Regions from separate parts of the Homo sapiens genome. Here region 2 is linked to region 1. Evidence: fine-mapped expression QTL. Tissue or cell type: whole blood. Region 1 holds a variant in brackets; the other region holds the start of a gene. All regions are shown on one strand. Distances are from middle to middle.

What was found. PIP is the estimated chance that this variant, and not a neighbour inherited with it, causes the effect.
Region 2: TRPC4AP starts here. The variant in region 1 is fine-mapped to the expression of TRPC4AP in whole blood (GTEx, PIP above 0.99). The same link has a PIP of 0.9 or more in tibial nerve.

The regions. Positions count from the first base shown.
Region 1 is chr20:35,002,041-35,007,221 of GRCh38, reverse strand. MYH7B (myosin heavy chain 7B) reads right to left here. Exons shown (of 45, transcript NM_020884.7): 44 at 5,137-5,181; 45 at 4,785-5,045. The coding sequence ends at 5,034. TRPC4AP (transient receptor potential cation channel subfamily C member 4 associated protein) reads left to right here. Exons shown (of 19, transcript NM_015638.3): 15 at 647-787; 16 at 1,419-1,527; 17 at 2,652-2,764; 18 at 3,606-3,812; 19 at 3,939-4,818. The coding sequence ends at 4,076. Among named protein-coding and RNA genes, the nearest start is that of MIR499B, 14 kb to the right of the region's middle. The variant A/G (reference allele first, on the strand shown) is at 2,903.
Region 2 is chr20:35,089,987-35,095,091 of GRCh38, reverse strand. TRPC4AP (transient receptor potential cation channel subfamily C member 4 associated protein) reads left to right here and starts at 2,285. Exons shown (of 19, transcript NM_015638.3): 1 at 2,285-2,478. The coding sequence starts at 2,311. RefSeq lists a silencer at 2,384-2,513 and an enhancer at 4,040-4,599.

The DNA.
Region 1 (5,181 bases):
TAGAGCAGAATGGCCAAAGTTATAATTGGTCTTTCAGATTTTTTCATATGGACAAGAAACTGACCCACGAATTATAAAATCCATGTGGAAAAGAATTGATCCAAATCAATGTAACTTCAAGAAAATGTAGAAAACTTTATAAAGGAGTAAATTGGCTTTATTCTCTTGATGAAAACTCAGTATTTTGGTGTAAACTCTATTTAAACAATTTCGTTCATAAACACAAAGACAAACCATGGGGTCAAAATGTGTCCTTTGCTTTTAAATTCTGTCCTTCATTTACTTGAATGACCTCAGTGCTTAGGCAGTGGCCTGTGTTTTAGACCTGGTGATGACAGCTCCCCTCACCTAGGAGCTGAGCACCCCGGCCATCTTGGTGACCACAGAGCAGGTCACAGGCTTCAGCTGTACGCCCTGGGCAGGGGAGAGATTGTGCTGCATTCCCAGTCTGCTCCACCTCCTGGTGAGGTCTGTCAGGCCTGGTCCTGTCCTTGGAGCCACCAGCATCCTCAGACAAGAATCTAGACAGTGTTGCCAGTTCCATCCCCAGGATGCTTGCTCAAAGCCAATGCATGGTCTGAGCTCCATGCCAGGCCCTGGTGGGGGCAGCCACGTTGACACCTTCACCCTGTCCCTCCTCACCCAGCACATCCTTTACTGCATTGTGGACAGCGAGTGTAAGTCAAGGGATGTGCTCCAGAGTTACTTTGACCTCCTGGGGGAGCTGATGAAGTTCAACGTTGATGCATTCAAGAGATTCAATAAATATATCAACACCGATGCAAAGGTAAAGTTAACCCAGGGCTCTGTGGAGTGTGCTGGGTTGTCCAGAAGTTCACCTGGAGTCCTGGTCTGCCAGGCTTTAGGCACAGGTTTTACGTTAGAGACGACGGGGGAGTCTGGGCAGTCTTTGGCAAACATTCATTGGAACCTGCTCTGTCTGGCTTTGTGCTAGACCCTGGGAATGCAGGGATGAAAACCGGGGCTGCTTGTGGGTAGGGAGTGAGGGTGGGAATGGGTGGCTTGTGCGCCTGCCGTGACGCAGCATGGTGGGTGCCACGGTGGGAGCCGCTGTAGGGAGGGACTGGGCCTGGTGTGTTAGGCTCACCGAGTGTGTGTGACAGAAACCCAGCTCAGGCTAGCTGAAGTAAAATTAAAAGTAAAAATTAAAGGAATCCAGCACCCTTGAGCGTAAAACCACTGGAGAGAGTGTCGGATCTGTGCTGAATTCCGGGGAGTGCCTCTTAGTACCTGGGTGGTGAGGGGAGGTCCCTCAGCTTATCTGAGCCTCTGTCTTCCTATCTGAAGCAGTGGGGCTGGTAGAGGTCGCTGATGCCCCTTGTAGTGACTATCCCCCCGGGCCATGGCCATACCTGGCCAGCAGCCCACTGCCTGCTGTGAGCTTGGTTTCTGTATAGTTCCAGGTATTCCTGAAGCAGATCAACAGCTCCCTGGTGGACTCCAACATGCTGGTGCGCTGTGTCACTCTGTCCCTGGACCGATTTGAAAACCAGGTGGATATGAAAGGTACATGAAAGGCAGGCTGTCAAGGCAAGTCATGCAGGGTAAGAATGCTGGCATCAGACACCCTGTCTCCAGCAGGGAGACAAGAATGACTGAGGGAGCTGCACCAGATGCCCACGTGGCCGGCCTCAAGGTGGCGGCTTCCAGGGCAATTGGCTTTGCTGCCTTGTTCAACACTTTAATAAGGTGAAAATCCATTGTTGCTAGCAAGATGCAAAGAAAACCAGAAAAAGACCTTCCTCTTCTGGGCTGGTATTGCCTGGCACGATGAGTTGGCCCCCTCGTCCTCAGTGTGCTGTGCGTGGCATCGCAGGTGCCCTGTGGTGCAGCAGGCATCTGAACCCTCCTGGACTTGCTAACGCACTTCCATGTGTATGCGCACGCGTTTCCTTTTTTTCCTAGGAGAGGGCTTGTGGCATCCAGCAGATTCTCCTGAGGGTTTGTGACCCCCCCACACCCCCAAAAAGTCAGGCACTTGTTCCTTGTCACGGTCACTGTCATTGATAGCAAGAAGTATCCCGGTTGTTGGTAATTTAGCCGTTTGCTTCCTTTTTCTGCCCCAGAGGGTCTGTTTCAGGGGAACAGCCACACAGATTTTGGTACCTTCGGTTATTGCCCTGCCTCCCAGTTGTGCGGGAAGCAGTTGCTCCGACACTAGTGGACGGAGCAGAACCTGTGCCTTGTGGTCTCAGCACTGGGCCGGACTCACCTGAGAGCTGGTGTGGAAAACCAGTTGCGCTAGGACCTCTGCAGAAGGAGTGGAACTTTTGCGTTGTTTTTCTTAATGCAGCGTCATGGATCCATCTTCCTGTGGAGGGAACTCTTCTGTGTGTGATATGGAGGGCACGGGTCTGGAGCCAGTCTGGGGAGGGCTGAGGGAGAGCTGCCCTGAGCTTGGTTCTGGAGGATGAGGTGGGGTGCTCCTGGGCACTCTGAGAACATGGCTTTGCCTGGTAGCAGGACAGCTGGAGGTCCTTCTTTCTGCCACAGTCAGCTTTCGTTGAAGCTGTTTTGATGATGAGCTCCTAGCTTCAGAGTCAGGACCCAAGCGGGGCTCCACGAAAGGCCTGGGCGACCCAGCCACTGGGCCTAAGCCTGACCTGCTGCACCCCTGCCTCCCTCCACAGTTGCCGAGGTACTGTCTGAATGCCGCCTGCTCGCCTACATATCCCAGGTGCCCACGCAGATGTCCTTCCTCTTCCGCCTCATCAACATCATCCACGTGCAGACGCTGACCCAGGTGAGAGGCCCCGGCAGACACACAGCAGGGAAGGTCGATTGGAAACCACTTCCTTTGTCCTGGTGCCCAGCAGGTTTCTGTCCCCCACTCCAGAAGTGCGTCTCTGGAGACCCAGCTCTTCTGAGGACTGTGCTCAGG[A/G]GGAATCAGTGTCCCATTGTACAGACAGGGCCTAAGGAAGGAGGGCTCGCAAGTGCCCTCAGGTCACAGGCTGACTTGCAGGCCAGTGCTCTCCCCGCCTCCCCCATGTCCACGTCCCTCACACCTTCTGCCCTGCTGGGCTTTGGAATCGGACCTGAGGCTGCCCAACTCCCTCACTGAATAGTCATGCAGCCTTCCCTTCTCTGAGCCTCCTGCCCCTCTTTTCTAGAGTGAGGGTGATCTTAGCACCTCTCAGAGGTGGTCTTTGGTTCCGTTCTGAGGTGAAGCACCAGGTGGGAGTGCATGGTGAGTGGGGCAGAACTCTTTCCCCACCGAGGCGCGCAGGCTAGTGCTGAATGGCACTTCTGAAGCGGGATAACCGCCCCAACACACGCACCCAGCCCTGCCTGGGACGGACCTTCCGGAAGGAGTGATGCTTGAGCCCAGGTCTGGACAGGGACAGGTGTTGTTGCCTCAGGTGGGGTGGGAGGTGGGCGTGGGGAAGAGGAAGGTGCTCAGTCAGGAAACTGGGGCTGCTGGGGGCCCCCTTCCCCCAGTCCTATCTCACCTCTGTGCAGGGAGAGCTCTGTGGGTGGCCCGAGGCCTGGGGCCACTCTCCTCCCTGCCTGATGGCTACCCAGGTTCACCAGGGGCCACTGGGGCTCCCACCAGCCCCTGACCCTGTGGGCCTGTGGCCTTGCAGGAGAACGTCAGCTGCCTCAACACCAGCCTGGTGATCCTGATGCTGGCCCGACGGAAAGAGCGGCTGCCCCTGTACCTGCGGCTGCTGCAGCGGATGGAGCACAGCAAGAAGTACCCCGGCTTCCTGCTCAACAACTTCCACAACCTGCTGCGCTTCTGGCAGCAGCACTACCTGCACAAGGACAAGGACAGCACCTGCCTAGAGAACGTGAGTGCCCCACCCTCAAGGGGGTGATGGGTGGGCCGCGGACCCAGGGCCTCTCAGAGGGGTGTCCCGGTGCTGGGCTTGACCTGGGTCCTCCAGGCGCCCCCCAGCCCCTCCCTCTTTGCCCAGAGCTCCTGCATCAGCTTCTCATACTGGAAGGAGACAGTGTCCATCCTGTTGAACCCGGACCGGCAGTCACCCTCTGCTCTCGTTAGCTACATTGAGGAGCCCTACATGGACATAGACAGGGACTTCACTGAGGAGTGACCTTGGGCCAGGCCTCGGGAGGCTGCTGGGCCAGTGTGGGTGAGCGTGGGTACGATGCCACACGCCCTGCCCTGTTCCCGTTCCTCCCTGCTGCTCTCTGCCTGCCCCAGGTCTTTGGGTACAGGCTTGGTGGGAGGGAAGTCCTAGAAGCCCTTGGTCCCCCTGGGTCTGAGGGCCCTAGGTCATGGAGAGCCTCAGTCCCCATAATGAGGACAGGGTACCATGCCCACCTTTCCTTCAGAACCCTGGGGCCCAGGGCCACCCAGAGGTAAGAGGACATTTAGCATTAGCTCTGTGTGAGCTCCTGCCGGTTTCTTGGCTGTCAGTCAGTCCCAGAGTGGGGAGGAAGATATGGGTGACCCCCACCCCCCATCTGTGAGCCAAGCCTCCCTTGTCCCTGGCCTTTGGACCCAGGCAAAGGCTTCTGAGCCCTGGGCAGGGGTGGTGGGTACCAGAGAATGCTGCCTTCCCCCAAGCCTGCCCCTCTGCCTCATTTTCCTGTAGCTCCTCTGGTTCTGTTTGCTCATTGGCCGCTGTGTTCATCCAAGGGGGTTCTCCCAGAAGTGAGGGGCCTTTCCCTCCATCCCTTGGGGCACGGGGCAGCTGTGCCTGCCCTGCCTCTGCCTGAGGCAGCCGCTCCTGCCTGAGCCTGGACATGGGGCCCTTCCTTGTGTTGCCAATTTATTAACAGCAAATAAACCAATTAAATGGAGACTATTAAATAACTTTATTTTAAAAATGACTGCTGTGGACCTGGCTTTTGTCCCTAGGACTGTGTTTTTCCTCCTGAACCCCAAAGAAAAGAATGAGAAGGAAACTGGCTGTGGTGTTTATTCAGGGCCCAGGGAAGGCTGAAGGCAGCAGGGGGCGATGCAGAGATGGCAGGATCGGGGCAGGTGGCCTCAGCCAGATGTGCAACAGCAGACATTCCTCTTTAGAGCCCAGGGGGTCAGGCCGTCACTCCTTGTGCTGAGGAGAAAGGGATAGCTGAGTGAGCAGTACTACCTGTCAGCCCCCACAGTCCCCCTGCACAGAGAGCAATGCCCCTGCCACTCCTCACCTTGGGGCCCAGGGCGTCCCGGGTCCGTGCCCGCAGCTTGTTGGC
Region 2 (5,105 bases), 88 kb before region 1:
TCAGGTGATCCACCTGCCTCGGCCACCCAAAGTGCTGGGATTATAGGTGTGAGCCACCGCGCCCAGCCGGCTTACAGGTTTTTAATGGCAGGAGGGCAGAGGCCACAGGCGAAGTCATAAATCAATACATAGGGGCTGTATATTGGTTCCACCTAAAAAGACAGGACATCTCCAACCAGGGGCCCACAAGTGGATTCAAAGATTTTCTGACTTGTAATTGGTTAAGGAGGTAAAGCTTTGTCTAAAAATTTGGGATCTGCAGAAAAGAATGTTAGCTCTGACTTATGGTCGTGTCCTCCTCCAGGCCCCCTAGGAAGAAATTTATAACAAAAAATAGAAGTCAAAGTTTAGTTCTCAGCTCTCCCTTATCTGAGTTTGCCTATCAGCAGATCCATTTGGTGGGGGTTCGAGTTTCTAAGAAACAACACTCAGGGACAAATTTTAAGATGTTATATTCAGTTTCTATAGGGAACAAAATATCTCCTGACTGTAACTTCTTTGGCTATTTTTTTTTTTTTTTCTGAGATGGAGTCTCATCCTGTCATCAAACTGGAGTGCAGTGGCGTGATCTCGGCTCACTGTGACCTCTGTCTCCAGGGTTCAAGTGATTCTCCTGCCTCAGCCTCCCAAGTAGCTGGGACTACAGGTGCATGCCACCACGCCCAGCTAATTTTTGCATTTTTAGTAGAGATGGGGTTTCACCATGTTGGCCAGGCTGGTCTCGAACTCCTGACCTCATGATCTGACTACCTCGGCCTCCCAAAGTGCTGGGATTACAGGTGTGAGCCACTGGGATTACAGGTGTGAGCCACTGCACCCGGCTGAGTTTATTTTTGTATAATGTGAGAGATGAGGATCCAGTTTCATTCTTCTGCATGTGGCTTGCCAGTTATCACCAGCTGTTGAATAGGGTGTCCTTTCCCCACTTTATGTTTTTGTTTGCTTTATCGAAGATCAGTTGGCTATAAGTATTTGGTTTTATACTGTGTTCTCTATTCTGTTCCATTGGTCTATGTGCCTATTTTTATACCAGTACCATGCTGTTTGGGTGACTATGGCCTTATTGTATAGATTGAAGTCAGGTAATGTGATGCCTCCAGATTTATTCTTTTTGCTTAGTCTTGCTTTGGACATGCAGGCTCTTTTTTGGTTCCATATGATTTTTAGGATTCTTTTTTCTAGTTCTATGAAGATGGATGGTGAGTCTACTCCTTTTAGATGGGGTGTGAGGATGGTAACCATAGTGCCAGTTCACCTGGGAGAGTCACTTTTATGCCTACCGTCCCGGTGTAATTATTTATTGTGTCTTTTCATTCTTTAAAGTGTTCTGGTTTGAGCAGTAAGTTACAGTCATCTTAGTTATGAGTCACAATCTTCACCATTCCCTGTTACATCACACTTAGCTCTCCTCTTTCATTTTTATTACAGGCCCCCTGCTAGGAAGGGAAAAAGTGTGTGTGTGTTGGGTGGGGGGAGTCAGTGCCATCCTGCCACAGAAGTTAGCTGAAAAAATGAGTATTAGAGACAACATGCTATCTGGTGGATAGAAATTAGGACAGGGTTTTCATCTGACAGAGAATATGATGTCACAATTTACTAATCCCTTTCCCTTCCATTATTTAATTTCACAACAACCTACCCAGTTACACAACTTATCCAGTTTGAGACTGCGTTTCTTTGTGTATGGATCTGCTGTCTTCCCCTGTAACCTGCATTTCGTGATAAAGGATCCCAGGCCGTTCTGCTCACCACTGTATCCCAGACACCCTCCCTTTCCCCTAGACATGGTTTGGTGTCGGGCGCAGAGAAAGCCCCAGGAACTACGATTGATCAGGCTCCCAGAATCTATAGATGGAGTGACCTGACGAGGACACAGGCGCAGTGGCAGAGCGCGATGACTTGGTCGATGTCCGCGGTGAGTCACGTGTAGAGAGAAGCAGGCAGGAAGCGGACTCGAGGGCCTGACTCCTGACCTGAAGCCCAGGATCATTTCTTGGCCAGCTGCCTGCATCCTGCCCAAATCGGCGAGAGAAATGGGAGAATGTGGACCTTGGGAGATTTCGCCGAAATGCTGGGCCCGGGGGCCAGAGAAACCGGCAGTGCAGGAAAGGCCACATCTCTTTTCCCACCTACCCCGCTGCCGCGCAGGACTACAATTCCCAGTAGCCTCCACGCCGCACACGGTCCCTGCCACGCGGCTTGCGCCTCCGCCGACGGCCCACTGGGGGCGCTGCGGCGACCCCTCCGCCGCCCCGTAGAAATCTCCGCGGCCCCGAGGCCGCTTGCTTCCTGTTTGTCCGACGAGGAGACATGGCGGCGGCGCCGGTAGCGGCTGGGTCTGGAGCCGGCCGAGGGAGACGGTCGGCAGCCACAGTGGCGGCTTGGGGCGGATGGGGCGGCCGGCCGCGGCCTGGTAACATTCTGCTGCAGCTGCGGCAGGGCCAGCTGACCGGCCGGGGCCTGGTCCGGGCGGTGCAGGTACGAGGCTGGACCAGGAGGGGCGGGGCGGGGCGGACCAGGCGGGAGCTGGCGGGGGGCCGGGGAAGAGGCCTTTCCAGGCCGCCGCTGGACGGGCCAAAGCCCTTTTGGCTGGCCGGAAGGCCTCCCTGTGAGCTGCCCGGACGCTCTCAGCTGCAGCGGGGCCGTGGGAAGCAGCTGGCTTGATGTCCCTTGTCAGGGGCCGAGCGGGGCTGGGCTGCTGTGGACACTGATGGCGTGTACGAACCCTGGGCCCAGTTTCTGGATCCTCCCTTCTTTGCGCCACGTCTACACGTCTGGGGGACCCTGTCGTGTTTGTTTTAGCCTCTGTGGGCCTCGAGTTTATCCCGTGTATTGGGCGTGGGGGAGGGGGTCATCATTGCAGCCCCCAAATGGTTCCCGAGCATTTCATAAATGTCATTTTCTCAGGCCTTTCCTTGACACTCTTTCCTTCCCCTTTCTAAAGTAGGTCCCCATTGTTATTCTGTCACAGCCGCGAATTCGTTTCGTTTACATTACTTTCTTAGTCTATAATTTCGTATTTCTTTGTTGTCTGCCTTTTTCTCGCCCGTCTCCCACATTAGGCTGAGTTCCAGCGGGTGCAGAGACTATATCTGGTTTGCTAGTGTAGAGCGTCACGGTTAAGAGGGACTCTGGAGTCAGGCCTGGGTTCAAAGCCCTGCTCCTCTCTCTTGCTTGGGCAGGTGACCTTTCTGTGCCTCAGTTTCCTCACTTGTAAGATGAAGATGAGAATTAGTAACCTACCTTTTAAGATTGTTGTGGAGATCAAAGGGGGCAATTGTGTAAAGCATTAGTGCATTTCTGGTGCATACTAAGGGCTGAAGGTAGTTAATATTAAGCATCTGACTTATAACAGGTGCCCAACATATGATTATTGTTATTTTTGAGTGAGCGAAGGACACTGCTTTAGGGTAAACCAGGTTGAATAGGACCTAGTCCACTACTTCTTCCACCCTCCCCCACCCCGAACCTTGCTAACACCTGTAAAACATTAGCTTTATTTAAAGACAGCTTTTTCATAAAAAGTTTGAAGGATACTCAAGAAACTGATAAAGTGGTTGGTGGGAGTGAGGTGGGAATTGGGCTAAAGGGGGAGAAAATGGGAGTGAGACTTTTCACAGTGTAACTTTATTTAAATTTAATTTGAATATCACTTCCTCAAATGACGAAAAGGATAGAATAAAATAAAGGCTAGGGGGTCTGTGTGTATGGAGGACTGTGGACGAAAGGAGCAGTTGTGAGTGAGAAATGTTTTCCTGGCCATCACACAACCATAGATGAGCAGCCTTTTTCCCCCTTGTGTTCTTAAGACCTGACTTAAGACCCTGTAATCCCAGCACTTTGGGAGGCCGAGGCAGGCAGATCGCTTGAATCCAGGAATTCGAGACCAGCCCAGGCAACACGGCAAAATCCTGTGTCTCCAAAAATTTAGCCGGGCATGGTGGTGGTGTGTGCCTGTGGGGAGGCTGAGGTGGGAGGATTACCTGAGCCTGGGAGGCGGAGATTGACAGAGTGAGACCCTGTCTCAAAAAAAAAAAAAAATCCTAGAAATACTTGCTCTTTCCTTCTTAAGCTAAGATACCTTACCGAGCTGGGTGTGTAGAGACAGGCAGAAAGAGGACTAACTTTTAGTGAGCACATAACCTTTAGAAAAAGTACGGTACAAGGCATATGTTATCTTTAATCCTCAAGCTTTTGAGTTATGCTTCAAGACTCATTTCTTAATATGGATGAGGAAACTGAGGCTCAGAGAGGTTAGATGATATGTTCCTAAACACCCATCCTGATAATCAGTGTTCTGAGAATAATAGGGAGCCACAGAAGTTCTTTAGCATGATAAATGAGGCAATTTAGGCAACTTAATTTGTTTCCAGTGCTGAATGACTTAGAATGGGAGGAGCCTAGAAAAGCCCACCAGAGGCTGGGCACAGTGGCTCATTCCTGTAATCCCAGTGCTTTGGGAGGTCGAGGCGGGTGGATCATCTGAGGTCAGGAGTTTGAGACCAGCCTGGCCAACATGGCGAAGCCCCGTCTCTACTAAAAATACAAAAATTAGCCGGGCGTGGTGGTAAGCACCTGTAATCCCAGCTACTCTGGAGGCTGAGGCAGGAGAATTGCTTGAACCTGGGAGGTGGAGGTTGTGAGCTGAGATCACGCCACTGCACTCCAGCCTGGGTGACATAGTGAGACTTCATCTCAAAAAAAAAAAAAAAAAGCTCACCAGATACAAGGCTGCTGGAATATTCTGGAGCCACAAAAGCAAGGCAGGTTATTGTGGTAACTGATGGTTGTATATAGGTGTGGGAGCTATTTCAGAAGTTGAAGTAGAGACCCCCTGCCTGGAGCTATAGTGAGGATAAAATGGGGACCTTCATCTTTCAAATATTTCTTTTCTTAGTTTTTTTTTTTTTTAATTTATTCCATGCTGTGCCCTTCCGCTCCTCTCTCCCATCCTGCAGAATAAGTTATTTGCTTACCCTTTTTTTTTTTTGAGACAGAATCTTGCTCTGTCACCCAGGCTGGAGTGCAGTGGCAAGCTCAACTTCCTGGGCTCAAGTGATCCTCCCACCTTAGCCTCCCTAGTAGCTGGGACTACAGGCGTGTGC